7 linked regions of the Homo sapiens genome follow. The protein of the gene in region 1 purifies or fractionates together with the protein of each later gene. This does not show direct contact. Each region holds a gene or a part of one and is shown in the gene's direction. Other genes may lie near its edges. The genes, in order: RWDD2B, DENR, HS1BP3, DCPH1, PLS1, NRGN and ACY3.

Region 1 (4,723 bases):
TAGGCGTGTGCATTTAAAAACTGATGTGTATTTAAGGTATGCATTTCATTTTTACCTTAAAAAATCCTTAATTTGAACTCCAATGATGTGCATTAGAGGTACTTAGAAGCGTACTGTCTGCAGTTTACTTTTAAATGTATGAAAACAGATAGATTGATGAGGTATGTGACAAAGCTGGTAGAGTAAAATTCTGTACTCTCCAGGTCAGTGTTTTTCAACCTCAACACTATCAACATTTTGGACCAGCAAATTTGTTGTTGTCGGGGGATGTCCTGTTCATTGTAGGAAGTTGAGGAACATCCCTGTGCTCTACCTACCCCATGCCAATACCATCCTTCCAGTTGTGACAACCCAAAATGTCTTCAGACACTGCTAAATAGAGGGGAAATCCATCCTTCCCCTTCTCTTGAGGTCTGCTCCACTGTAAAATTCTCTCGACTTCGCTTTACACTTGAATTTTTTCATAATAAATGTTGGAGGAAAAAATAAATTATGACATTGAAAAACGCTCATGAAACACTATGCAGAAGACGTAGTTTATGAAGACCTACAATACATACTGTCGTATTTTTGTTTAAAAAAAAAAAGTGGAGGGGAGACCTAGCAGTGATATTTAGTATTGCTAAATGTCAATGTTTACAAATCTTATCTATGACATTTCTAAAATGAATATTATAAAGTGTATTGCATATAGTTGGATTGGGAAGAAAAACATTTCTAATTATTCTCCTGTCAGCATCTCCTTCAAACTACCCTTTTATTAACAGGGATAGATATGCATTCACACGGTTCCTCCCAGCTTGGTTAATGGGCAAGAACACCTAAGATAGCCAAGGCCACCATGCATCCAGGCTCACATCTCCCTAATTGCCCTCCTCCATGATTCAGGGACAAGGAGGATCACCATCGTGTGGGAAGATACTAGAAATGTAGAATTTGGAACCCCACCCCTACCTACGGAATCCTGATCTGCACTTCAACAGGATCCCCGAACTATTCCTAGGCGCGTTCGAATTTGAGGAACATTAACGGACCAATTCTTTGTCCCTGAAAAGTGCCCGTTATAGAGGCGGCCGCTGGGAAATGACAACGGGGTTGGCATGGAGAGGTATTAAGTAGAAAAACTCCGGCCGGGCACGGTGGCTCAGGCCTGTAATCCCAGCACTGTGGGAGGCCGAGGCCGGTGGATCACCTGAGGTCAGGAGTTCGAGACCAGCCTGGCCAACATGGTGAAACCCCATTTCTACTGAAAAATACAAAAATTATCTGGGCATGGTGGTGGGCGCCTGTAATCCCAGCTACTCGGGAGGCTGAGGCAGGAGAATCGCTTGAACCCAGGAGGCGGAGGCTGCAGTGAGCCGAGATCGCGCCACTGCACTCCAGCTTGAGAGACACAGCGAGACTCCGTCTCAAAAAAAAAAAAAAGGAAGAAAGAAAGAAGAAGAAGAGAACTCTGCGACTGAAAAGTACCTAGCAGGGACAACGCATTCCCTACGTCCTTCCAAGTGCAGACACCAACACCGGCGGACGCGGCTCCCAACAGGCGAGCCCCAGCTTCCGGTCCGCGGCCTTGGACGCGCATGCGCCGCATGCTTTTTTTTTTTTTTTCCGGTAGGTCGCCAGCTGAGGCGGTTTGTAAGTTTTGGGTCGCAGTATGCTAGAATTTTGAGGCTCCCTTCTGATGAAAATTGAGCTGTCCATGCAGCCATGGAACCCGGGTTACAGCAGTGAGGGGGCCACGGCTCAAGGTGAGTCTCGCCTCAGCTAGCGCCAGTGGTGACCGCCACGGGGGTTTCCCACGCTGCAGCGCCCAGTGCAACCCTTTGGGAACGTGCCCGGCATGGCGGCCCCGGTTCCCCTCACTGCATGCGCCCATCGGTCGGCTCGGTCCTCGGCGTTGCTTCCCGGCTTCTGCAGCCCTGCTCCAGCCGGGGACCTCGCCCCGGGGGCAATCAGGGTGCGAGGGCGGCTGCGTGCTGGGCTTTCTTCCTGAGAGCGTCTTGGCTTGGGTCGCGGGGTACCCTGCTCTGTTCTTCAAAAAAAAATCTGCAAGGAAAAGATATTATTCCACTCAGAAATCTCAAGTTTCAGTCTGCGTTCTCTTAAATATATTTTATTTTTTAAAAAAATAATAAAGGCGAGCTCTTACTATGTTACCCAGGCTGATCTTGAACTCCTGGGCTCAAGCAGTCCCCCTTCCTCTGCCTCCCAAAGTGCTGGGATTACAGGCGTGAGCAATCGCGCCCGGCCACAGTCTATTATCTTACAGCATTCGCTGAAATCTTGAATCATAAAATTATCTTGAGGGTTTTTTGGAAGGACTGAAATCTCTTAAGCGAAAATAATTTGGCAGATAAATGACCTGTGACATCACTCCCGTAGTTGTCCGTTCAAGAGTCCCTCCGTCCCGTTCTTCTTTGCTAATCCCATTTCATCTTCGATACCTCCAATTCAATAGCACCCTCTCCCAACTTTACTCACTCCCTGGGAGACTTTAAACAAATATATAGTTCCAAATAAGTGTTGACTCCCAAGATTATATATCTAGCTGAGTCTCTCGTAGACTTCAAAACTATACATCTAACTGCCTGCTAGACCTCTCTATTTAACAGGTGTCTTAGTAGGCACTTCATTACTTGTGTCTAAAACCAAGCTTCAGCTCCCCATGACCATCAACGTCTAAATAAATGGCAGATCCATACTTTCAGTACCTTAAAGCCCCGGAGTCATTCTTCCGTGTCTCATGTAATTCATCTGTAAATCCTGTTGCCTCTGTTCTCTGCATGTATCCAGAACCTGAAGCTCACCAACTTGACCACTATAATCCTATCAAAGCCACCATCATCTCTCCCTAGTTATTGCGGTGTCTATATCTGGTCACCCCACTTTTCCTTTCACTTTTCTCCATAGCAGCAAGTGTGGGGATCTTCATAAGTCAAACCTCTCTTGTAGCTCTTACATGTCAGTCGGGATAAAATTCAAAATTCTGGCCATGCTTTACTAGTCCCAACATAAACTGCCCCACATTTCCTTACTAAACTCTTCTATTCCCCGTGTCCTCAGCTCACTGTGCTCTGGCCAGCTGTTCTAGCACCCTCCTTCCTCAAGGCCTTTGAATATGCTGTTCGCTTTCCCTTGAACACTCTTGGCCAAGAAAAACACATGGCCTCCTTTTTCAGTTCCTTAAAGTCTCTTCCCTACAGTCACCTTAGGAGAAAGGCCTTTCCTGACAATGCTGTGTGCAGTCTCACCCCTGCTGCCTCATTGTTTCCCTTATCCTTGTTTTCTTTTTCAGGTTTCTTCATAGCAGTTATTCACTGGGTACAAAAATTCTTTTTTGTTTTTTTTTGAGACAGTCTTGCTCTGTTGCTCTGGCTGGAGTGCAGAGGTATGATCTTAGCTCACTGCAACCTCCGCCTCCCCAGTTCAAGCGATTCTCCTGCCTCAGCCTCCCTAGTAGCTGGGACTACAGGCGTGGGCGACCACACCTGGCTAATTTTTGTATTTTTAGTAGAGATGGGGTTTCATCATGTTGGCCAGGCTGGTCTCAAACTCCTGACCTTAGGTGATCCGCCCACCTCATCCTCCCAAAGTGCTGGGATTACAGGCGTGAGCCACCACCGCACCTGGGCTGGGCGTATAAATTTGTTTTTGATGTCATGGTATCCTCCCACCAGTAGAGTTGTTTTATTACTTTCATTCATTGTTATCTTAGTGCCAGTGCTTGAACGTAAGTGCTTGAGAAACATTTGTTGAAATGATGACCAATAATAATAATAGTAATAAGCAGCCGGACACGGTGGCTCATGCCTGTAATCCCAGCACTTTGGGAGCCCAGGGCGGGTGGATCATGACGGCAGGAGTTCGAGACCAGCCTGGCCAACGTGGTGAAACCCCGTCTCTACTAAAAAACCCAGAAAGCAGAGGTTGTAGTGAGCCGACTCTGCACTCTGGCCTGGGTGACAGAGCTAGACCCTGTCTCAAAAAAAAAGGTTTTTTTAATTAATAATAATAGTAGCAAGCACGCATATAAAATTTACTGTTGCCAGGCACTTTCCACAAATTCTCATCTAATCATCACAGCAACCCTCTCATCCCAGTTATGGAGTTGGGGAGACTAAAGCACAGATAAATTAAGCCACTTGCCTAAGGTCCTGCAGTTGGTAAGTGGCAGAGCCAGGAGTCGCACCTTGGCAATCTGGTAATAGAATCCAAAAACACTGGTAACAGAGCCACGCCAACAAAAAAACAAAGTAAACCATTTCCTCTAATAACCACCCAAGTAGTTGTTTTTTATGTTTCTCAACTCCAAAACAGACCAGCAAATATGTATATGGAATTCCAATAAGTCCAGGGATTTTAAGTATGTATGAGGATTTTGTTTAAAAAAAAAAAGGCCGGGAGCAGTGGCTCATGCCTGTAATCCCAGCACTCTGGGAGGCCAAGGCGGGTGAATCACCTGAGGTCGGGAGTTTGAGACTAGCCCAACTGACATGGTGTAACTCCATCTCTACTAAATACAAAAAATTAGCTGGGTGTGGTGGCGCATGCCTGTAATCCTAGCTACTTGGGAGGCTGAGGCAGGAGAATCGCTTGAACCTGGGAGGTGGAGATTGCAGTGAGCCGAGATTGCACCATTTCACTCCAGCCTGGGCAACAAGAGCGAAACTCCGTCTCAAAAAAATAAATAAATAAAAAATCGGAAAAAAAACAAAAGAAAACA
Region 2 (3,923 bases), on another chromosome or scaffold:
TTGAAGGTGACGGCTAAATGTTTGCATTGAAAAGGTACAGTTTTCCCTTTCCAAATAAGTAAGTGATCTGTAAAGAGAAATTGACTTTTTTAAAGCAAATAATGGTGAACTTAAAGGAGCTCCCCCAATTTTTTTATTGCATTAGAATTTTGCTGAACCGGGCCAGGCACAGTGGCTCACACCTGTAATCACAGCACTTTGGGAGGCTGAGGCCAAGGCAGGCAGATCACTTGAGGCCAGGAGTTCAAGACCAGCCTGGCCAACATGGCAAAACCCTGTCTCTACTAAAAATACAAAAATTAGCTGGGTGTGGTGGTGCACACCTGTAATCCCAGCTACTCGGGAGGCTGAGCTACGAGAATCACTTGGACCCAGGAGGTAGAGGTTGCAGCCAGCTGAGATGGTGCCATTGCACTCCAGCCTGGGCAACAGAGCAAAACCCCAATTTTTTTTTTTTTCTGAACTAAATATTATTTGAAATAGTATACAAAATTTGTAGCTTTAGTATTTGCTGTGATGGTGTTTAACCAATAATTGTATAGTTATATCCTGAAAGTGTGGCTGAACAACTATGCCTAGTATTTGAACTTGAATTGTGAGGAATATAGGGCTGTAGCTAACCAGAGAGATCTTTGGTGGAAATAACCCTAAACTATAATAGACTAGACTGGACAAAACCAATGGATTCCAGTTTTCTTCTGCCACATACCACCTTTGTCATTGTATGAGCTGTTTAACTCTTTTAGTGCCCCATCTGTAAAATAGTGATTGTGTGGTAGCATGTTAGAATGTTAGTAGGGTGAGGTGAAGGCAGATCATTTTCAGCTGTCAGGTGCCACTAAGTTGCTTGTTTACTTTGTGTAACCTAAGTTAGTGGTTAATAGCATGAGCGTCAGAAACAGGCAGATTCAAATCCTGTTATCCAGATGCAAGTGGTTATGTACTCTAAGCCTCAGTTTCATCATCTGAATATAGATATGGTACTTATCTTACAAGGTTGTGATAACTAAACATAATAATGTATATAAGGCATAGCAAAACATTTGGCACATACTAGGTGCCCAGTGTGTAGTAATTGCTGTGACTACATGGTATACCACCTTCCTCTCCCTGAGAAATCTCAGGATATTGGACACACTGAACTACTCCATTCTAAACCTTAAACATAAAAACAAAAGGCCGGGCGCGGTGGCTCACTCCTGTAATCCCAGCACTTTGGGAGGCTGAGGCGGGCGGATCACAAGGTCAGGAGATCGAGACCATCCTAGCTAATACTGTGAAACCCCGTCTTTACTAAAAATACAAAAAATTAGCCGGGCGCGGTGGCGGGCACCTGTAGTCCCAGCTACTCTGGAGACTGAGGCAGGAGAATGGCGTGAACCCGGGAGGCGGAGCTTGCAGTGAGCCGAGATAGTGCTACTGCAGTCCGGCCTGGGTGAAAGAGCAAGACTCCGTCTCAAAAATAAATAAATAAAAACAAAATAAGCAGTTGACCCAGTATTAGAATTACGGTTAAAATTGGAAGCTTTTCCAGTTCTTCTAGTCCATTATTAGCCTGTACAGGCTCTAACACCAAATGACAGGATTGAACCAAGATTCCTTCTAGCTTTACACTTTCATGATCTTATGTAGCATAACATGAAAAAGCCTTGGCAACATAGCGAGATCCCGTCTCTACAAAAATAAAAAACTTACCTGTACATAGTGGCTCACGCTTATAGTCCCAGCTACTTGGGAGGCTGAAGCGGGAGGATTACTTGAGCTGAGGAGTTCGAGGCTGCAGTGAGCCATGGACACACCACTACACTCCAGCCTGAGTGACAGAGTGAGAGTGAGACCCTTACTCTAAAAAAAATAGGCCAGGTGCGGTGGCTCATGCCTGTAATCCCAGCACTTTGGGAGGCTGAGGCGGACGGATTACCTGAGGTCAGGAGTTTGAGACCAGTCTGGCCAACATGGTGAAACCCCGTCTCTACTAAAAATACAAAAATTAGCCGGGCGTGGTGGCACACGCCTGTAATCCCAGCTACTTGGGAGGCTGAGGCAGGAGAATTTCTTGAGCCCAGGAGACAGAAGTTGCAGTGAGCCGAGATCGTGCCTCTGCACTCCAGCCTGGCAGAAAGAGCAAGACTCTGTCTCAGAAAAAAAAAAAGGAAAAATATATTGCAAAAAGATGGTAGTAAAAATGCTGCTAAAGTTTATAAATGTGTCAGTATGAATAAAAAGTGGTGGCTGTTTTGGTAGAACCATCAAAAGAAATAACCAGGCTGGGAACAGTGCTTCACGCCTGTGATCCCAGCACTTTGGGAAGCTAAGATAGGTAGATCGCTTAAGCCCAGAAGTTTGAGACTAGCCTGGGCAACATGGTGAAACCTTGTCTCTACAAAAAATTAGCTGGGCATGGTGGTGTGCATCTGTAGTCCCATTTAGTTGGGAGACTGAGGTGGGAGGATCATTTGAGCCCCTGGAGGGGTGGAGGCTGCATTGAGCCATGATTGCACCACTGCACCCCAGCCTGGGCAACAGAGTGAGACCGTGTCTCAAAAGAAAAGAAATAACCAGTTTCCTTCAAACTCTGATGTATGGGAAATTGTTCGTGTCTTAGCTTAATTTTTTGACCCACTGAAATGGTTATGGTAAGACCTCATTATATACAAAATAGCATATTTTGATGTTCCATCAGCTGATGGAGACACTCTTTAGATGAAAAAGTCAAGATAGTATCATCTCAAATAACCATGTGCCTTTTACCCCAAAAACACTGAAGAGTAGCATTTGAAAAGTGGTATAGAAAACTTATAGGGAAAATGTAAAAATGAAGCATTTTCTCAAATATAAAAGTAAGGATAAGCCCTGTGTATGTGTGTACATATAGGTTTAACATTTCAAATCTTTTTTCTTTTTACTTCCTCAGTCTGTTCATTACCAACAGAGGTAAGTTCTTTAATTTTTTTTTTTACCTTATGTATTTGAAGTTATTCTTGGTTTTAAAGCTACCTTGAGAATTTTTTTTTATTTTTCATTTTTGATTATTTGATAGTAAAGCTTTAACCTTTTATAGAGAACTTTGATTTAGAGTAATTTTTTGGTCTTATATATTCTTTCCTAAATTTAGACCTTAAATCATACATGTGCATCTTTTGCACATGGCTGTGCAGTTTGGATTTTTGCATGGGACTTATGAATAGTCAGCTAATAAAATAAGAGTAACCTTAATGCCAAAATCTATACAAATGAGCAGAGGAAAGAAAGGGCAGTATAAATTATGTGTAAGACTTTCTAAGTCCAGCTCTATGAGCAAGTCATGAAAATGAGGCACTTATGTGCTCAAAGCAAGAAATAGAGGGAGAAGAAATAAATTGGTACTGTGAAGAGGTACCTAATCCTTCTTAATATCTAATTTTTTATGGGACATATCGTGGTTGAATACAGATTTCCTGTGGATAAGAAGTCAGATGGGAGTGGTTTGTTTTATTCTTTGTATTAACAAGTATAGGGGGTGATTTTTAATTACGACATATTGTTTGACTGAAAATGTTTTGTTGTGACTCAGTTCTTTTTTTTTCTCCTAGTACTGTGAATATATGCCTGATGTTGCTAAATGTAGACAATGGTTAGAGAAGAATTTTCCAAATGAATTTGCAAAACTTACTGTAGGTATGAACATTTTTTTTCTTGCATTAAACTTCTGTACCTGAGACAAATGCATGTATGGCATTATTCTAAAGATAGGAAAGTCCTCCTTTAGTAGGATATTACAGAATTAACATTTATCTGTTAGCTGTTTAAGTTCTCTCTGAGATAGGATAGGTCTGAATATCAACTTTCTTACATAAAAAAGTAAATGGGCCGGGCGCAGTGGCTCACACCTATAATCCTAGCAGTTTGGGAGGCTGAGGCAGGCGGATCACAAGGTCAGGAGA
Region 3 (3,923 bases), on another chromosome or scaffold:
CAGGAGGGAAACGGAGCAAGGGGAATGTCGGGTCAAAGCACAGCTTTTGTTACATGAGTGGTCAGAGCATGGTTGCATGCTAATAAGCGTGGGCCAGTAAGGAAGGAAAATCGATGGTGCGAAAAAGAGGGGTGAGCTGCAGCAGCTATGTCCTTCAGTAGGTGGGAGGGCCTCGGAGCCGCTGCCCTGGTAGAAGGTTGGCCTTAGGAGCAGCCAGCCAGTTTGTCTACAGTCCCAGGAGAGGGCAGCTATCAGGGAGCAGCTGCAGGCTGATGGGCAGATGTGACAGCGAAGCCTAGGATGTTCTCCGATGGTCTCTGGAGCAGTACACAGCAGTGTCCACATCACTTGGGAATTTGCTAGAGATGGTGAGGGCACACCCCGGGGCCTGCAGAACCAGAATCTGCATATTAACAGGATCCCCAGGGGGTTGCACGCACATTACAGTTGGAGAAGCTTGGTCTAGGGCACATCCTGCCCACCACACCCCCATTTGTTTATGTACTCTCCGTAGCAGCTGCAGCAGAGACCAGATACCCTACACAGCCTGAAATATTTGCTATCTGACCCTGTAGAGAAAGTTTTCCTATGGGTTCAGGGAAGTGGGAGGGTGATGGAGTAGGCCCAGGTGCATCAGACTCGTCGGAGGGCTTACTAAGAAAACAAGATGGCTGGCCACCCTAGGCCCGAACATGCCTTTCTTACAAGTTCCCAGGCGATGCTGATCCTGATCCAGGGACCACACTTTGAGAACCCCACATCTAGGGCAAGGTAGGGTTGCCAAGCCTGGTGTGGTGCTGTGCCTTCAAGTCTGCAGCCATGAATTTCAATGGGACCAGGCTGCATGTTTACACCATGTCTGTCCCCAGTCACGTTGAGCCACTTGGGCACAGGGTGAAGGAAGCAGAGAACTGGAGAAGTGGGCTTTGACCAGGCCAGCTCAGCTCTGGGTAAGAAGTCAGGGGAGCTGGGCCTAAGGCAGAGGGATTCCAGCAATGGAATGGGACCCTGGAAAAGGGGTGGGGTTATGGATTGTGGGTTCTGGCGTGGTCAGAGAACCATTGGATGTGGGGTGCTGTGAGGGAGCTGGATCGTGGGAGGTGCCCATCTGGGTCTGCTCCATCCCTTTCCCACCCCTGAGAGGACCTCCCCGCAGCTCAGGCACTGCCCTTCTTGTCACTTTCACCCCCCTGTGCCTCGTTTTCATCATGATCCTAAAGAAATGATGCCTGGCTTCTTTCTCATGCCTGCCCCATAAGAGGCCACCTGGGCTCTGGAGCAGCTGCCTGGGATTGAACGCAGCTCCACCTCATGCCGGGTGAGACCTGGGCAGGCACTTTCCCTTTAGGGGTCTGTTTCCCTGTATTTTAAGTGGGTCTGGGTAGCAGAGCTCCTTCGCAGGGTTGCAGGAGGCGGAAGTGACTTCACACAGGTGCATCCCTAGAGCCCAGCGCGTCTCCCCTCAGCATCCAGCCTCACCTTCCTCCTCCACACTGGTGGCAGTGACACCGTGGGTGACACCAGGCCGCGCGTGCACACTGCGTGAACTCGGTGCCGTTGGCAGAGGGCTGGCTGTGCGTGTGCACCTCCCAGTGCCCATTCGGCCCTTGCTGCACTTTTCACCACCTGAAGGCAGGTTGCCTGGGGTGCCCTACGCCGCGGGAGGATATTCCTTGTGTGTACAGCACTCAGTCATTGGGTGTCATACATGGCATAGGAGACGCATCACTGTAGGCCTCACCAGTTGGTGACAGCAGCGTTGTGCTGGTGACAGCGTGGCCTAGCGTGGGATGTGAGGGGTCCGTGTGGGAGGAGTGCTGGGGCAGGGGGATTTGATGGATTGGGGTATAATTCCAGAGAGGGAAGGGCCTTGCCCCAGACACAGGTTAAGCTCCAGAAGCTCCTCCCGTGTTTTCAGGGTCCTGCCCAGCACACAGGAGGTCTCACCTCGATGGTCAGAGCTGCTCAGAGGGTGCCCCACGTGTCCTGCCAGAGGTGTTTGCGTGAGGGATGTTAGTCTGCACAGGTCTGTGTCTCACCTTATGTAGGATGAGGGATGTATTTAATAACTTTTTCCACTTCAAGAAAAACATCTCATCACTTCTTTGCTCATCATACAATTCATTATATTCGAATTGCATTTTACAAATCTCCAAGAGCGGTGATGTTTTGCCGATGCATCCTCTCTACACCTCGAGGGGCAGCATCGACTGCCCAGATGAGGGACGGGCCTATCAGTGCCTCTCTGGGCCACGGTGGGTCACAAGGGTCCTGCCTCCAGTGCTCGTCCCGTGTCCCCCCCAGGGGGCCTGTAGCAGCCCTCCTGCCCATTAGCCAAAGAGAGGTGCCTGTCTCCAGCTGGGATTTCAATCCCTTGCTGTCCCTGCAGCCCCAGGCATGTTCCTTGGTCTGAGTAGAGGCCCTAGGATGCTGCTCCCACCCATTCTGCACAGAGTTTGTGTCGATCCCTTTCAACAAGCCCCATCCTTTCCTGTTTTCCTGCAGGGAGCAGACCTTTGTCCCTGAGCAACCCAAAGGCAGGACCAGGTCCGAGGCCTCGAGGCCTGGGAAGCCAGGCTTATGAGGGCTGGTGTGGCGGGATGGGTGGCCTGGAGCAGTGACCACTGAGGACAGCCAGCAGAGTCACCTGGCACCCAGGCCTGCCAGGCACCCAGAGGCCCTGCCTGCACTTTGCTCGGGAAGCCTACTGCCTTGACCCTGAACCCCACCTGCCTTCTTTTCCCCTGGCAGGCGACTTCAGAATGCCCACACTGGCCTCGACCTGACTGTGCCCCAGCACCAGGAGGTACGGGGCAAGATGATGTCTGGACACGTGGAGTACCAGATCCTGGTGGTGACCCGTCTGGCTGCGTTCAAGTCGGCCAAGCACAGGCCCGAGGATGTCGTCCAGTTCTTGGTGAGCCGGAGGCTCTGGCCAGGATGTTTCGAGGGTGCCCGGGGTCCGGGCGGGCAGACACATCTGCCCACCAGGGTTCAAGTAGCATCCAGAGCAAGTGCTTCTCTGTCTGTTGCTTGCTCAGGGCCTGGAGTACCAGACCATGCTAGACAGAAGGGACACAGGGTGAATCAGACGCTCTCAGTCCGTGGAGAGGCAGACCTCTAAAGAGACAGATACAGATGGGGACAGGAGCACCTGGGGGGCTCTGGGGGTATAGAGAAGGGGCACCTAACTGACCCTGGGGAAACTTCTTGGAAGAGGCGGTGGCTGAGCTGTGTTTTGAGGAACAGATGGGGCTCAGCAGGAGAGGTGAGAAGGGTGTCCCGGGCAGACAACACATCCTAAGCAAAGGCACGGAGGTTGGAAATAGGACATTGAGTGGGAACTCTGCACAGTTGAGTGTGGTCCTGGGAGGAAGCGGGGAAGATGAAGGTGAGTGACAGGCAGGATCCAGATTGTGGAGAGTCTGCGGGAGCCTGGACTTAACCTGCAGCCAAGGAGAGTTTTAAGCAGGGGAGTGACGTGGACCCTTTTGCCTTTAACCAGCCAATCTGCTGAGAGCATGGAGTTGGATTGGAAGGAACAAAACAGGTGTCAGGGAGCCCAGATACATGGCCAATATGGTCATTCCCAAATCAAGGGCTTGGAGCAGGCCAGTTGCACTTGGTATGGAAGGGAAAGGGAGAGTTGAAAATGTTTACTGGGTAACATGCACCACATTTGCTGACTGTTTCCACCAACTGAAATAAAGAATATGATGGAGGAGCAGACCTAGGGGGCATGTGGAGTGTGAAGTGTCTGCCCTGTGGATGGATACATGAGGCTGGAGCTCGGGACGAGCTCAGGCCTGAGATGTAGGCTTGGGAGTCATCAACTTGGAGGTGATATTAAAAATCTGGGAGTGGATCAAGTTGCCCAGAGAACAGAAGTGGAAGGCAGAGAGAAGGGCTGAGGAGGAAATCCT
Region 4 (3,923 bases), on another chromosome or scaffold:
TCATTAGCATTCAGTGCAGAATAGGACTTTAGAAATCACTTTGTCCATTCAATTAATGGATGAGGAAAAATCCAAATAACTATGTTATTGAAGGGGTGGGTTGCCCCTCCACACCTGTGGGTGTTTCTCGTAAGGTGGAACGAGAGACTTGGAAAAGAAAAAGACACAGAGACAAAGTATAGAGAAAGAAATAAGGGGACCTGGGGAACCAGCGTTCAGCATATGGAGGATCCCGCCAGCCTCTGAGTTCCCTTAGTATTTATTGATCATTCGTGGGTGTTTCTCCGAGAGAGGGATGTGTCAGGGTCACAAGACAATTGTGGGGAGAGGGTCAGCAGACAAACACGTGAACAAAGGTCTTTGCATCATAGACAATGTAAAGGATTAAGTGCTGTGCTTTTAGATATGCATACACATAAACATCTCAATGCTTTACAAAGCAGTATTGCTGCCCGCATGTCCCACCTCCAGCCCTAAGGCGGTTTTTCCCTATCTCAGTAGATGGAACATACAATTGGGTTTTATACCGAGACATTCCATTGCCCAGGGACGGGCAGGAGACAGATGCCTTCCTCTTGTCTCAACTGCAAGAGGCATGCCTTCCTCTTACACTAATCCTCCTCAGCACAGACCCTTTACGGGTGTCGGGCTGGGGGACGGTCAGGTCTTTCCCTTCCCACGAGGCCATATTTCAGACTATCACATGGGGAGAAACCTTGGACAATACCTGGCTTTCCTAGGCAGAGGTCCCTGCGGCCTTCCGGCCTTCCGCAGTTTTTGTGCCCCTGGGTACTTGAGATTAGGGAGTGGTGATGACTCTCAAGGAGTATGCTGCCTTCAAGCATCTGTTTAACAAAGCACATCTTGCACCGCCCTTAATCCATTTAACTCCGAGTTGACACAGCACATGTTTCAGAGAGCACGGGGTTGGGGGTAAGGTTATAGATTAACAGAATCTCAAGGCAGAAGAATTTTTCTTAGTACAGAACAAAATGGAGTCTCCTATGTCTACTTCTTTCTACACAGACACAGTAACAATCTGATCTCTCTTGCTTTTCCCCACATGTTATGTTAGACATAGGTCTTTAAACTTGTAGGTTCAGTAATCTTTCTATTACACAATAGACTGTAAAAGAGCATACATATACCAGTACATTTTTTTTGAGAGTTGAAAACAAAAATTTAGAGAAATGGTTGGTGATCTTTTCTCCTTGGCCAAATTGAAATGGAGCAAGATAACACACATGCAGTTTGAGTGTAATGTTCTACTTCTTTCAACTTCTTTTATATTGTCTTGTTTAAAACTAATCCTGGCATAACACAGGGATTACCTGTTGTTCCTTGTTGCTAAAATCCGGCTTAATTTAGACACTGACAATTATATTGCTGAATGGTTTTAATGTTTATCACATAAACATAATTTTGGTAACTGACATATCTTTATCACACAAGTATAATTTAGCCAAATTTGGATAGTTCACTTTAGTATTTGGTCATATACGCAAGCAAATTACCATAATACTTTTGTTTTTCTTGTTGTTGTTTTTTGAGACAGGGTCTTGTTCTGTCTACTAGGCAGAGTGCAGTGGTGCAGTCATAGCTCACTGCAGCCTCAAACTCCTAGATTCCAGCAATTCTCCCAGTTCAGCATCCTAAAGTGCTGGCATTACAGGCGTGAGCCACTGTGCCTGGCCCCATAATGCTTTTGTAATTTCAGTTTTTTCGGCCAGAGTGATCTAAAATGTAGTAATTAATGAAGTCCTAGTATATTGCTACTTGGCCTGTATGCCCGTAATCACCAGGTGACTGAAGGCAGAGTTTATTGTCTCTCCAGCCCTCCCCCATTTCACACTCTACTGAGCACAGAACAAGATGTAAATTGACACAGATAAAGTCTGCTTTTGGTAGCCTTTCTGTCCCTTTTTCATGCCTCTGTTATACCTATGGCCACTCTCCTTGGGCCTCATGTGTTCTAGCTTCCTAAGCCCCCACCTATAGCAGGGCCAGGCTTATCTCCGAAGGAGCCATGCCACACAGTTTTCTATCTTCCCCCACCTCAGCGGTCAAACGTCCGTGCCCTTAGACTACCTGGTTTGGCAGATGTGTGTCTCTTGGAGACAGGACCAGGCTTTATTCATCTTTCTCTGGCCCTGAGGTTAGTGTCAGGCACATACAGGGTTCAGTAAATGTTTGAATTCAATTCAAGTAAGTGAACAAAGTGGCAGTGACATCACTATTAATCCATTAGCCTTTTTAGGTATATGCTTCTGTAAAAGGGTGCCTGACACCCTGTAAAACCTCAGTTGTTGGAATTTATAGTTAAAGAGTTGAAGTTTAAGACTTTAGGGAAGAGATTTGGAGGAGGGGGAGTTCCTCTCAAAACAGTCAGCTACAACTTCTTTTCTTCTATTTCTGAACCTGCAGAATCTCGAAAGCTTCAATCTTTTTTTCTAGCAGCAAAATAAATTGTACTTGGAACAAAAGAAAGATTGGAGAGATGTTTATATTGAGAAAATTACAGATCTGAAAGTAGGGACTAAATATCAACATGATAAAAATGATCTTATAAAAATACTCAGGCTTGATGTTTATTCTCTACATTTTATTATATACGTGTCTTATTAGGCTTACATTTTCTTTTTTTTTAATGGAGCAGGAATCTTGCTAATGTAAAACCAAGGTGTGAAGTCATTTTCACTTCATTCTGATCCCATTACATTTGTCCCCACTCCAATTGGCCTGTTATGTGAGATAATATTGTAGTGCCTTGTTTGTCAGCATATGTCATCTCTCACCTAGCTAGAACTTGGTGGAAAACAAGTTAAAAAAAATTTGAGCTACCAAAAGAAACCTCAGAAAGCCCACAGTTTCTTTTCTAGTGGTGTCAATGGTGAAAGAAGAATATGTATGGAAGCATGAAAGACATGGAAAATCTGGCAGGGGTTCCTTTCCCTCTGTGGTAATGGTCATCCCACCGAAGATACAGAAAGGCCAGAACTTAGGTAGATAAGGCATGATTATGTTCATATGAGATCTGTGTGTGTTTTTTGATTTTCAGTTTAAGAGTTCTAAATGTAATGTTTAAAGAAATAAAATGTAGTTTTGAACATTTTTCTTTTCTTCTTAAGTCTGTAAAAATATGTTACCCTAGAGGAATTGCACAGACACACACACACACACAATTTATTTTTCTTGTATTTTTGCAGGAAGGCGTGGAAGCTGAAAAGAAAGCTATCTCTCTCCTTTCTAAATTACGGAATGAATTGCAAACAGATAAACCATTTATCCCCTTGGTTGAGAAATTTGTTGATACTGATATATGGAATCAGTACCTAGAATATCAACAGAGTCTTTTAAATGAAAGTGATGGAAAATCAAGATGGTTCTACTCACCGTGGTTGTTGGTAGAATGTTACATGTATCGAAGAATTCATGAAGCAATTATCCAGAGGTACGTGTGTAATCATCAACTATCAAATGTTTAGATAATTTATACTTTTTCTGAAATTGTAAAAGGATAAGTTTAAAAATAAGCACCAGTGGAAGCTTGAATTTGGTTGAGTTTAGCAAATCTTAATAGCATTGTTGGACATTTCTACAAATGTTACTGATGGACATTTCTACAAATGTTACTGATGGACATTTCTATAGCTGTTACCAATTTAACAGATTCTTGGCAATTATAATCTACTTGCCTAGAATAGACATAAGAGTAAATATCTAAAGTACGAATTGGCCAGGCCCTGAGGTTCATGCTTGTAATCCCAGCACTTTGGGAGGCTGAGGTGGGCAGATTGCTTGAGGTCAGGAGTTCGAGACCAGCCTGGCCAGCATAACGAAACCCGTCTCTACTAAAAATAAAAAAATTAGCGAGGCATGGTGGCACGGGCCTGTAATCCCAGGTACCTGGGAGGCTGAGGAAT
Region 5 (3,923 bases), on another chromosome or scaffold:
CAAATAATTTAAAGGCCCCCCCCACCCCATAGGCCCCAGCTTTGACCTGTGAGAAAATGTGCTCCTCTCCCTCCTCTTGATGAACCTAATTACATAGAGAACTTACTCTCCTGGGAGTCTCAAAATGGAACTCAGCTGAGAGCGTGCTTCCCTCCCTTGCTGCCTGAGCTCTCTTTCCATTTCCTGGTTCTGCTTTACCTTCCCCTGAGTGGTTCTGTGTTCCCAGGATATGAAAGGCAGGGCCGCAGCTTCTGGCTTCACCGGGCTAATTTTTGTATTTTTAGTAGAGTCGGGGTTTCACCATGTTGGCCAGGCTGGTCGCCAACTCCTGACCTCAAGTGACTCGCCCGCCTCAGCCTCCCAAAGTGTTGAGGCTGAGGCCACCTCTGGCCCTCATTCTCTCAACATTCAAAAGCTTGTCACTTCATCCAGTTCCGAATTAACATTTTACTCTGGCTGATGATGAACGTCGGGGAGAAAGAGACATTTGTGCTGCATACGGGTTTATTGGTTATAAAATGGTTATACAATTTTGATTGCTGGAAACTTTGCTGACATGTAAGGTCACATGAGATGTGAGGCTGTTCAACTTTGATCATCTGATTTCTTTTTAGCACTGTGTCTGAAAGTGCCTATGTGCCGTTTTTGGTGAGACATATGTAGCATGGCTTCTGTAAAGGCACGTTGCTTTTTATTATAGTAATATTGTGGGCACAGAAAGGGTGAGGAGTTAGATGATTGGGAGAGTTTTTTCTTACTTAAAACACTTGTTTCATCAGAAAATATTTCCTAGCAGAGTTAGACATAGCTTTGTTCATAAAGTCCAGTGGTGAAGGGACTTCAGACTTTACGATAAACTAAATTTTATGATTGACTTTTGTGAGCAATTCACAGCTATAAAACTACGAGACTGGCTGGGCATGGTGGCTCACGCCTATAATCCCAGCACTTTGGGAGGCTGAGGCAGGTGGATCGCTTGAGCTCAAGAGTTCAACACCAGCCTGGGCAACATGGCAAAACATCGTCTCTACAAAAAAATTATCTGGGCATGGTGGCGCGTGCCTGTAGTCCCAGTTACTTAGGCTGAGGTGGGAGGATCATTTTGAGCCCAGGAGATTGAGGCTGCAGTGACCTGAGATTGTGCCACTGCACTTTAGCCTGGGTGACAAAGTGAAACCCTGCCTCAAAAAAAAAAAAAAATACCTACAAGAACATCTGGGTGATAACTCACTGCACACAGACATGCCTCCTTCAAAAGATCCAAGCTGACCACAAAAAAAAAGGAGAAACTGTCTTTTCTTGATAGTAAATTGGATGGAGACATTAGTAAGGTAGAAGGTGTCTGAGGGGCTTCTTCATGATAAAAAGCAAAAGGTTTTGGGGTGTCACTGACCCAAAATATTAGCAGAAATCAGATTTACTCTATTATTGAGGAACACAATACATTAAATTGTTTATAGATCCAGTTTCAAGAAAGAAGATGTTTATATTAAAAAAATGACAAAAGCTCCTTCAATTTTTTTGAGAACTAAGAAATAAGAGATTTTAGCAGTACTGCCAAAATAGAATTTGGATTTGAATTTAAGACACTGGTAAATGTGTGTGGAAGGATCGGTCTTGTTAATTACACCTTGGACCAAGGGCTGCTTGGAATGAATAAAAGAGGGGGAAAGGTTTAGACAAGTAGAATCTCTAGGTTGATATCAAGTTAGTATTTATAATCTTTGTAAATAAACCAAAACCTCTCAAAGACTCCTGCTGTCTCTTCCTGGAGAGCACTCTGAATTCTTTCCTGGCGGTCTCCCTTTTCCTTCCCCTCTCCCCAGGTTTAAGATCATTGGGACATCCTTTTGGTCAAGGAAATGTTTCTAAGAGTGACCTAGTTATTGGAATTTTAAGTGTTAATCAGGTCAGTGAGGTGCCATCTGTGAAACACAGCTCACCAAAACCCAATGTTTTTCATCAGAAGTTGTCATGGAAGTGAGTTGATTTTGGAAAAACAACAATAATAGCAATTTGCTTGATCCCTTTCTTATCCTCAAATAGCCAAATTAAATTCAAGATTATTGGCCAGGTGCAGTGGCTCACGCCTGTAATCCCAGCACTTTGGGAGGCCGAGGCAGGCGGATCACGAGGTCAGGATATTGAGACCATCCTGGCTAACATGGTGAAACCCCGTCTCTACTAAAAAATACAAATAATTAGCCAGGCGTGGTGGTGGGTGCCTGTAGTCCCAGCTACTCAGGAGACTGAGGCAGGAGAATGGCGTGAACCCGGGAGGCAGAGCTTGCAGTGAGCTGAGATCACGGCACTGCATCTCCAGCCTGGGCAGCAGAGCAAGACTCCGTCTCAAAAAAAAAAAAAAATTCAAGATTATTATCAGTGGAAAAAGGAAATCTGAAAATCTCTGAATGTTTAGTGGTCAATTAAAATGAGTCTTAGGGCAATTTAAAGTTTAGATACCTGAAACCAGTTGGCCTATGATCAGAACCATGGATGAGAAGTCAAAGTCTGTGATTCTGTTTCTGACCCCATGAGAAGGAAGGCCTTCTCTTCAGCTGTAGGTTTGATAATTAAACAAGATAGTGGATGTGAAAGTAACTAGTCAACTACAAGATAGAGGAAAGGCATTTATTGATGTTTAAAAAAGCTTTCTGATTTTACTTCCTTTCACTGATAAGTGGCCAAGACTTAGAGAATGACTTGCCTGCTGGAGGTTGCCTGATTTGAAACTGCCAGAAATTAAACTCATAACTGTGTCTTATAATTTCAACATTTGAAAAAATGTCAGGGTTAATTTTTTTGAGACAGAGTCTTGCTCCGTTGCTCAGGCTGGAGTGAGGGGCACAATCTTGGCTCACTGCAACCTTTCGCCTCCCGGGTTCAAGTGATTCTCCTGCTTCATCCTCCCCAGTAGCTGGGGTTACAGGCATGTGCCACCATGCCCAGCTAATTTTTGTATTTCTAGTAGAGACATGGTTTCTCCATGTTGTCCAGGCTGATCTCGAACTCCTGACCTCATGGGACTTCAGTCTAGCTCCAAATCTAGTGCTCTTGCAGTCAATTCATATTTTCTTCTGTTACTGACCATATGAAATAATTCCTCTATGAAATTTATGTGCAATTTTTATAAAAGTCTAAATGTATTTTATGGCTAACCCTCAACTATGGAGCATATTAACATTAAAATGAGTTCTTGAAATAAGAGTTGATTAACATGGGAAAATATCCATCTCTTTCATCTTGAACAAAGTAGTTTTGTTTTAAAACTTATACTTCCTGCTAATGTACATCTGGAATGTGTAGGATAAAAGATTAAACTTTCTAAATATTTTACAAAGTTATATTCTCCCTATGTGATATATATTGTTCTGTGGGAGACTAAGCCTTAATTGAAGTATTTCTGCAAGGTTACTATAAGCATTTCTCATACCACTAGGACAATAAATAATGGGAGAACCCAAAACATTGTAATTTTCTAGTAATTCAGAGGAAATAACTGAATCCTGAAACATTGTACAAAAGGGTACACAATGATACCCATTTTTGCATGTTAATGTATTATTAAATATCAGTGGGAATAGTCTGCATGCTATTTCACATCTCAGGCACACTTAAGGAAGACCTTGTGATGTGCATGTTGCTCATTTAATCTAGAAAGGATACCAAGATTCATTTAGAACTTCTTTATGCACAGTTTTTTTTTGAGTATGTTATGTCCTGAGGCATTAAGGGTATTACTAAAGCAAGCAGCGGGACTTCTCAGAGAAATTAAAGGTTTCATATCAACCACACGTTGTCAAAATCTTCACTTTGAATAGGATTAAATGATGTTTCATCAGTATTCTTGGCACACATGACATTGTTTTTAAAATAACAGTTTTATTACTCTTGGCTGTGACAGTTTCTCAGACTTTCCTTAA
Region 6 (4,365 bases), on another chromosome or scaffold:
ATTTCTCTCCCACTCATTTTTCCTTTGGCAAGCAGAGCCTCGGGCCCAAACATCTAGGTGGAAAGGAAGCATGTCACCGCCACGTGGTCCCTGGTCATGGCCAGGGACTGGGGATGCACAGCAGAGCTGTCTCAGGATCTGCTGTCCCAACCAGAGCCACAGGGCATTTCCCACCTTTGCTCCCAGCAGGAGCCATCCTTTCCTCCTTCCCTTCTCTGGGACCTTAGCTGAGAAGACTTTCTAGTTTTCTCAGAGAAGGCCTACCCTACCCACATAACAAGCCACACTGCCAGCTTTTGTACCCTGCCGAGTTGGGGGAGGCTGACGACCACAACAGTGGCAGTCTGTCCCTCCCAGATGCTCTTTCCATAGCTCCCCTTCCCAGCCTCTCACGAAGCCCACATCCTGCCTCATCATGGACCCAAGAGCCAATTACTTCGAATTCTCTACACTTGGGTTTAGGGTATTTTTCTTCTTCTCAGGAGCAAGGGCGAGGATGGCCAGCTTTTGTCTTATTCTGAGGCAGCAGATCAAAAGGTTAGGCAGAGTCTGGTATGAAAGGGAGGAGGATACTTCTTCCAAGTCTGTGCCCATATATAAATACATACAAAATAGGTGTTGTGCATATATGATGTTGTTTGTTGCAGCTCATGTAGACAGATCGATAATAGATACGTCATGCCGACAGCTTGAGTTGGGTGACTGTCCGTGTGCGTGCGTGAGCGCGCGGGCGCCCGCAACAGGGTGTCCGCATTTACCTGCAACTGAAGGGCTGCGTAGTTATTTTTGCAGGTTGTATCTGCAGTGTCTGTATGCTGGAAGAAGGCCTGGGAAAATCATATGTGGACATGTGGGGCTTGTGAGCTTTTGTGTGGACGCATGCCCATCGCCAGGTTGTACCAACAGGTTTCTCCGTCTGTAGCAGGAGTGATGATGAGACCTTTTTACCGCCCGTTAGGGAGCCTTTCTTTGCGGACTGAGGGGGAGTGAAGTGAAAGGGAGCCATATTTGGGACTCCTGCTAGGTTGTGGAAGTATGGAGGGATGGGTGAGGGGTGCGTGGTTTTCTCTGAGCGGGAGTAGGTGCTGTGCCCAGATGTGGGTGTTTGTGCTCGGGGTGTCGGGGGCCTCCTTCTGCCTACTCCGGCGTACATCTGCCTGGCAGTCTGCCGCCTAGCAAGCCAGGGGATTGCGCCCGGGAGGATGGAGTGTGTAGGAGGCTTGGATACAAGCGTGTAGGCGGAGGGGCTGGGGCAGGAGCGGGAGCGCGGCGCAGAGAGCCGCGAGAGGGCGTGGCCCTCCCTCCACTTCTCCCCGCCCACCCTGCCGGAGGCTGCTCCTGATTGGCTTCCCGGCCGCGGGGCTCAGGTTACATTCGCGAGCGGAGCCGAGCGCGGGAGACCGGACCCGAGAGCAGAGCTGCTGTTTCGGCGCGGGTCGGCTGGCGGCCGACTGCCCCAGAGCCCCCACCCGGCACCACACAGACCCCACCCCCGCCCTGCGCCAGCCTTCGTCCCCGCAGAGGACCCCCCGACACCAGCATGGACTGCTGCACCGTAAGTTAGAGGGCCCGGGGGAGGGGCACTTGGCGGGGTCCGCTGCGAGAGGCGCCTGAGAAAGCCCTGGAGGGCGAGAGAGGGATGGAAGTGGATGCGGAAGACCTAGGAGCAGAAAGAAAAGGGGTCCTTGCCGAGACGTGGGTGGTGGATGGTGGAAGGCGCCCGCCCGACTTGGAAGCCCTAGGAAAAATGCTCCTCAACTCGCGGGGGCGTCTGAGCGCCCATCCGTTAGACAGCCTAGGCTGGACTGGGAGCTCGGCAGGGCTCTGCAAGAGGGGAACTGCGGGTTGGATGACAGGAGGAACTTCCTCCCCAGTGAGACGCTGGCAACCATCGCCTGGAGACACTGCAGCGACTCCTTCCTCCCGTCTTTCGGCCCCCACCCCGTTCCCCATCCCACTGCGCCGCCGTCGGTGGGCGGACAGGCTGATCCTCATGACCCTCCAACGATCGCCTAAGCGCCCTGTGCAGCGCAGGCTGGTCCATATTGGTTAGCTCGGTAGTGATGCTGGCTGCAAAGAGCCTAGTCAGGGTGGTTCTGGGGAGGGGTTGTCCCGGCCCCCAAGGCCTTCTCGCTCGGAAGGGGCTGGGTGAAGTGACCGCGAGAGAGCCCTGCTGGCGAGGAAAGGAAGTGTCTGCAATTTGTCAGCGCCCACGCGGAAACCTGGGTACTGCAAGTGCCCAGCGCCCGAGGGGTTTGCTGTAAAGGTGACTCGGTATGAAAGCGCCTGGCATAGGCCCTGGCTCCTGCCTCACTGGAAGAGTACAGTGATCATACGTATATGAAATTTATTTGTTTGCTTATTTATTTTTTGCCTCTGCACTTGGAGAAAGACTATTCCAAAGTCCTTGTATTTTCAGTCATTCAGTCAACCAGCTAATGATACACGAGGTTACTGACTTTGCCACCTTATGGCATAGTAAAGAAAAAAAAAGTGGGCTTTGGAAGGGAAGGATAGCCCAGTTCTATAATAGGTGAGACTTTCCCATGTCTGGGTACCAAGAGGCAGAGAACACTTAGGGGCAAGTGGTGGTGGTTGCGATTTTAACTCTTATTAGTTTAAGTAATAGTTGCCAGTTTGTGAATGCCTGCCCTGTAGCCAGCACTTTATATTTAATCATAGCAACAACCCTGTGAAGTAGGTATTATTTCACAGATGTGCCAACTGAGGTTTAGAAAGTTAGATTTTTCCAAGGAAGCATGACTCCTAACTGTGGAGGCAGGATTCAAACATAGCCCTGTCTTCTTCGAAGAGCTGTGGTTTAACCTCTCCTCTAAATATTTACTGATTATAAAAGTAATCTGCTCATAATAGAAAACGTAAAACCTAGAGAAAAGTATGAAAAACAAACATGTCAGTCACCTACAGTCCCACCCCCTGGAGAACACCCCGATAACATATCTCCTTCCAGCCTTTTCCCTCTGCTTGTTATTCTACAGGAAGCAATTTTTTGGTTGTGAAGGGAGAAATGGGCTCCTCATGGAGGTTCCTGGGCTCCACTGAGGAAGAGCCCTTCCTCCCAGCAGTGTTGTATAAAGTAGAGAAGATAAATGGATGGTGGGTTCTGGGAAATGAGCTGGGGGGAGGGGAGAGGTGAGGATGACAGGGGAGTATTGCTGGGGAAGGGGAAGTGGGAGACGTGGTCACTGGAAAGAGGTGAGTAAACAAAGAATCCAAGAGGCCAGGGAAGGAATGGAATTGGTCTCCTCTGTGTCTGCAGTAGTAATTAGAGTAGGATGTGGGGGTCCCTGCCTGGAACTGTTGCTCTTGAGTGCCCAGGGAGCCATACTGAGGGATTAGTAGACATGGTTGAAGTCAGTGTCCCTTAAAAAAGGAGAGGCTACCCACCCAAAAGGTAAAAGAGAAGCAGATACACAATTATCTCCATGGCCCAGGGCCTGGGGCACCTCCTCCAGTGCACCCTGTGCACAGGAGCCTTCCCAAGTCATGCCCTGTCCTAGGTCTGCAGGGCTAAAGGGCTGAGCAAGAGAGAGCACCATTATCAGACTGTGCAGGAGGGCAGGAAGAAGAAGGAGTGATGTGTGGAGGGTTGGGGAAGGGCAGGGCTAGGGGTGGGCATTTTCCTCCCCTTTCTGTGGAGGGCTGGACTCAGTGCTGGGAGAGAGCTGAGATGTGTGGGAAGAACAGCATACCTCTTGGGGGCTAGAGGCAGGTCCTTCTTCATCTTTTGATTCTGGAGCTCTCCTCACTGACCGCATCACCTGGTGTTTGGGAAGAATCTAGTCCTGTCTTATTCCCGTTTCTCCTTGGTACAGAGGCTCAGATAGAAATGAGGAAGAAGAAAACAGATCTGCCTATTTTTTTAAGAGACAGAGGAATGGTTTTTTATTCATGCTGATTCAAATATTGCAGTTGCTGATTTACATAGCCATATATATATATGACTTTTCCTGCATTCACCGCGCATGAAAAAGCGCATGAATTTTTTTGGATCCTCATTTCTTTTGCTTAGTCTAGTTGGCTTGGCCCTGCTGAATTCATAGAAATAATTACCTGCCCTGAGGCAGTGGCTAGCAGCAGAGGCTACTGAATCCCATCACTTCACTATTTGTCAACTGAGTGACCTTAGCTAAGTTACAAAATGTCTCAGAGGCTGTTTCCTGACTTCCAAAATGGGGATTAAATGAGGTAATATATGCAAAGCGCTTAGCACAGGGCCTGACATAATAACAAGCAGCAAGCAGGGGATATCCTTAAAGCTATTCGGATTTGGGAGCTGAAGGAGACTTTGTTCATTAGTTGTGGCTGAAGAAAATGAGACTCTCAGAGATGAAGTGATGTGCC
Region 7 (3,261 bases), on another chromosome or scaffold:
CCACAGGGTGTGCTGCGGGCTGACATTTTCTCAAGGATGAGGACCCTGGTGGCCACAGTTCTGGACTTCATCGAACTCTTCAACCAGGGTGAGACCCCAGGGGACTTTCGGGAAACAGGTCCGGGGAAGAGCAGGTCTGGCTCAGGGGTTGGGGAGCCAGGCTCACAGGCAGGCTGGGATCTAGCCCTGACGTACCCCCACGGCCCAGTCTGTCCCCTAGCCTGGAGGGAGGGATGGGCTCACACACCCAGCCTCCCACACAGGTACGGCCTTTCCTGCCTTTGAGATGGAAGCCTATAGACCCGTGGGCGTCGTGGACTTCCCCCGCACCGAGGCCGGGCACCTGGCAGGCACTGTGCATCCTCAGCTGCAGGTGTGTGTGTGTGTGTGTGTGTGTGTGGTGGGGGGTGATTTCTGGGGCCACAGCCTTGGGGAGGAGGATTGTCAAGGAAAACTGAGCCCCAGGGGGTGCAGCCAAGCCTCCCACGAGCTCACCAGCATCTCGGGTTGAGGAGCAGGATGGGAGGCTGGGCTCCGCCATCCCACTTCCCCTGGCCCTGCTGCCTTCCCTGGAACCCCACACTCAGGCCTAGCACAAGAGGCCACAGTGATCCCCATAGCTCCTGTGGAGGGCATGATGGAGACAACCCTACCCTGGCTGTAAAAGGCAGAGGGAGGGGACATGGAGCAGGCATGACTCAATTCACCTGCTTGGAGGTGCAAATACAAAACTCTCTTCTGATTTTCAATTGGTTCCTCGAGCATCCCCATGCATGTTGGCAGTATGTCTCTCTGCAGGCCTTCCCTTCCTGAATGTTCCAGGATTAGGCAATCCTGCTTCCACACCTTTCCCTTGGGTGCCTGAGAAGAACGTACTGGCTGCTGCTCTGCTTGCTGCCACAGGGGGTCATTGTTGAATAGGGTCTGGTGCAATCTTGTGGCCTTTTGTGCCCTGAAGTTTCATTTTGAGGAGTTACCTTCTTACAAATGGAGGCAGCACCATCCCGTCCATGTTTAGGGCTAGACAGTCTTAATCCAGCCGTGCCCAGCTACCTTGCAGACGTTCAGTCATAACAGTCAATTTGGGTGGCTCCTCCTACAATTTTAAAATTTATTTTATTTTTTATTATTATTTTTTGAGACAGAATCTTGCTTCATTGCCCAGGCTAGAGTGCAGTGGTGCGATCTCAACTCACTGTGACATCTGCCTCCTGGGTTCAAGCGATTCTCCTGACTCAGCCTCCCCAGTAGCTGGGATTATAGGCACTCACCACCACACCCAGCCAATTTTTGTCTTTTTAGTACAGACAGGGTTTCACCACGTTGGCCAGGCTGGTCTCGAACTCCTGACCTCAAGTGATCTGCCCACCTCAGCCTCCCAAAGTGCTGAGATTACAGGCCACTGAGATTATGAGCCACTGTGCCCAGGCTTAAAATTTATTTATTTATTTATTTGAGACAGAGTCTCGCTCTGTTGCCCAGGCTGGAGTGCAGTGGCATAATATTGGCTTACTGCAACCTCCGCCTCCTGAGTTCAAGCGATTCTCCTGCCTCAGCCTCCCGAATAGCTGGGATTACAGGCGCTCACCACCACACCTGGCTAATTTTTGTATTTTTAGTAGAGATGAAATTTCACCATGTTGGCCAGGCTGGTCTTGAACTCCTGACCTCATGATCCACCCGCCTTGGCCTCCCAAAGTGCTGGGATTACAGGCGTGAGCCACTGCGCCCAGCCAAAATTTATTTAATAAAGAATCATATTGTACTTACCGTGTGCCAGACACTGCTGTAAGCACTATTAACCTGTTTAGTCTAAACTTCAGAATGATAGGAGGAGATATTGTAATCCTTATTTTACAGACAAGAAAGCTGAGAAACAGAGGTTAAGTGACTTGCTCACAGTTACACAGCTAGCAAGAATTTGAACTCCAGCTTCAATACCTGTGCCCGTATCCATGAGGGTCCACTTCCACATGGGCACATGCCACCCCAAGGTGACCTGTGTCTTCATTTCTAGACACAGAGCAGACTGGTATCTCACCAGACCTGCTGTCATATGGATTAAGGAAGTGAAGCATGGGTGGGAAAAGCCATGAATGAGGGGCATCTTTTGGGTGTCAAGCTGGGGTCACCCCCCTCTGGGGCCAGGGCAGAGGTGGCCCCAGCAATCTTGGCCTTTGGCTCTCCTCCCAGGACCGAGACTTCCAGCCACTGCAGCCTGGTGCTCCCATCTTCCAGATGTTCAGTGGGGAGGACCTGCTCTATGAGGGAGAGTCCACGGTGTACCCCGTGTTCATTAACGAGGCTGCCTACTATGAGAAGGGCGTTGCCTTTGTCCAGACTGAGAAGTTCACATTCACCGTGCCTGCCATGCCCGCGCTGACCCCTGCCCCGAGCCCAGCTTCCTAACCCAAGACACACCTCCCCAACCTCAGTCTTCCCATCTGAACGATGGGTCCTGAGGCACAGCTCTGAGCACAGAGGTCCCTTCTGCCACCTACCATGCACCATGTTCCTTGCCAGGCCTCCCCAACCCCTGGCCTCAATTTCCCTTTCTATAAAATGGAAGATGTCCAGAGGTCCATGGTTTGTGTCCTCTGTCCTGCACGGCTCCTCTCTGGCTGGGGAAGTGGATGGAGGAAGGGAGGTTGACCACAGGATCTGGGGGAGGTCTGGCCAGTGCAGCCTTGGACCTGCAAGTGTCTTGGGGCCAGTGGTGGCTGCCTCTGTGCCCACAGCTGTCCATCCATGCCTGGGGGAGGATTCCAGAGTGTGGGAGGAGAACCTGAAGAAGGATTGCTCTGGATCCAGCGGAGGGGCTTCCAGAGGAGGCTACAACCCAGAGGGGGACCCCCCAACCCTCCTATAGTCCTGGGGCCAGACAGTGAGTGTGGGGAGCGCAGAGACAGGCCCATGTCTGTGCACACATGTGTGTTTGTCCGTGCATGGCGCCTGCCCTGGATGCTCTTTGGCGTGCGTGTCTGTGCGTTTCCCACACACACGTGTTTCCAAGAGCCTCAGTTCCTTGGGCGTTCTAAGGGGATCTCTATGTGGCCAGATGTGCATTTTTAAGTGTGTAATGAGCCCGGTGCCCATAGTGGCTCAAGCAGGGAGTCAGGGCTGGGGGAAGGGCCACAGCAGGACAAGGCTGTCCCCATGCAGGACAGCCTGTCCAACTGCAGAGATGCAGGGAGGAGGTGGCTTGGGTTGGGGCACAGGGACTTCCCAGCTCTAATTGGGAAGCCACCATTTCCGCCATCC

What was found.
Region 2: the proteins of RWDD2B (region 1) and DENR purify together in Homo sapiens (affinity purification with mass spectrometry; 2 studies listed by BioGRID and IntAct, with this or other methods). This does not show direct contact.
Region 3: the proteins of RWDD2B (region 1) and HS1BP3 purify together in Homo sapiens (affinity purification with mass spectrometry; 2 studies listed by BioGRID and IntAct, with this or other methods). This does not show direct contact.
Region 4: the proteins of RWDD2B (region 1) and DCPH1 purify together in Homo sapiens (affinity purification with mass spectrometry; 3 studies listed by BioGRID and IntAct, with this or other methods). This does not show direct contact.
Region 5: the proteins of RWDD2B (region 1) and PLS1 purify together in Homo sapiens (affinity purification with mass spectrometry; 3 studies listed by BioGRID and IntAct, with this or other methods). This does not show direct contact.
Region 6: the proteins of RWDD2B (region 1) and NRGN purify together in Homo sapiens (affinity purification with mass spectrometry; 2 studies listed by BioGRID and IntAct, with this or other methods). This does not show direct contact.
Region 7: the proteins of RWDD2B (region 1) and ACY3 purify together in Homo sapiens (affinity purification with mass spectrometry; one large-scale study listed by BioGRID and IntAct). This does not show direct contact.

Annotation. Positions count from the first base shown.
Region 1 is NC_000021.9:29,016,236-29,020,958, reverse strand, and holds the start of RWDD2B (RWD domain-containing protein 2B), read left to right. Parts: upstream 1-1,609; 5' UTR 1,610-1,681; coding exon 1,682-1,748; exon of another isoform or gene 1,749-2,046; intron 2,047-2,711; exon of another isoform or gene 2,712-3,373; intron 3,374-4,723.
Region 2 is NC_000012.12:122,759,273-122,763,195, forward strand, and holds part of DENR (density-regulated protein), read left to right. Parts: intron 1-2,914; coding exon 2,915-2,934; intron 2,935-3,572; coding exon 3,573-3,657; intron 3,658-3,923. UniProt on the Homo sapiens protein: Translation regulator forming a complex with MCTS1 to promote translation reinitiation.
Region 3 is NC_000002.12:20,644,334-20,648,256, reverse strand, and holds part of HS1BP3 (HCLS1-binding protein 3), read left to right. Parts: intron 1-2,751; coding exon 2,752-2,917; intron 2,918-3,923. UniProt on the Homo sapiens protein: May be a modulator of IL-2 signaling.
Region 4 is NC_000006.12:151,455,122-151,459,044, forward strand, and holds part of DCPH1 (damage-control phosphatase ARMT1), read left to right. Parts: intron 1-3,206; coding exon 3,207-3,451; intron 3,452-3,923. UniProt on the Homo sapiens protein: Metal-dependent phosphatase that shows phosphatase activity against several substrates, including fructose-1-phosphate and fructose-6-phosphate.
Region 5 is NC_000003.12:142,602,585-142,606,507, forward strand, and holds part of PLS1 (plastin-1), read left to right. Parts: intron 1-3,923. UniProt on the Homo sapiens protein: Actin-bundling protein. In the inner ear, it is required for stereocilia formation. Mediates liquid packing of actin filaments that is necessary for stereocilia to grow to their proper dimensions.
Region 6 is NC_000011.10:124,738,545-124,742,909, forward strand, and holds the start of NRGN (neurogranin), read left to right. Parts: upstream 1-1,397; 5' UTR 1,398-1,540; coding exon 1,541-1,555; intron 1,556-4,365.
Region 7 is NC_000011.10:67,641,872-67,645,132, reverse strand, and holds the end of ACY3 (N-acyl-aromatic-L-amino acid amidohydrolase (carboxylate-forming)), read left to right. Parts: coding exon 1-88; intron 89-263; coding exon 264-373; intron 374-2,193; coding exon 2,194-2,409; 3' UTR 2,410-2,578; downstream 2,579-3,261. UniProt on the Homo sapiens protein: Plays an important role in deacetylating mercapturic acids in kidney proximal tubules. Also acts on N-acetyl-aromatic amino acids.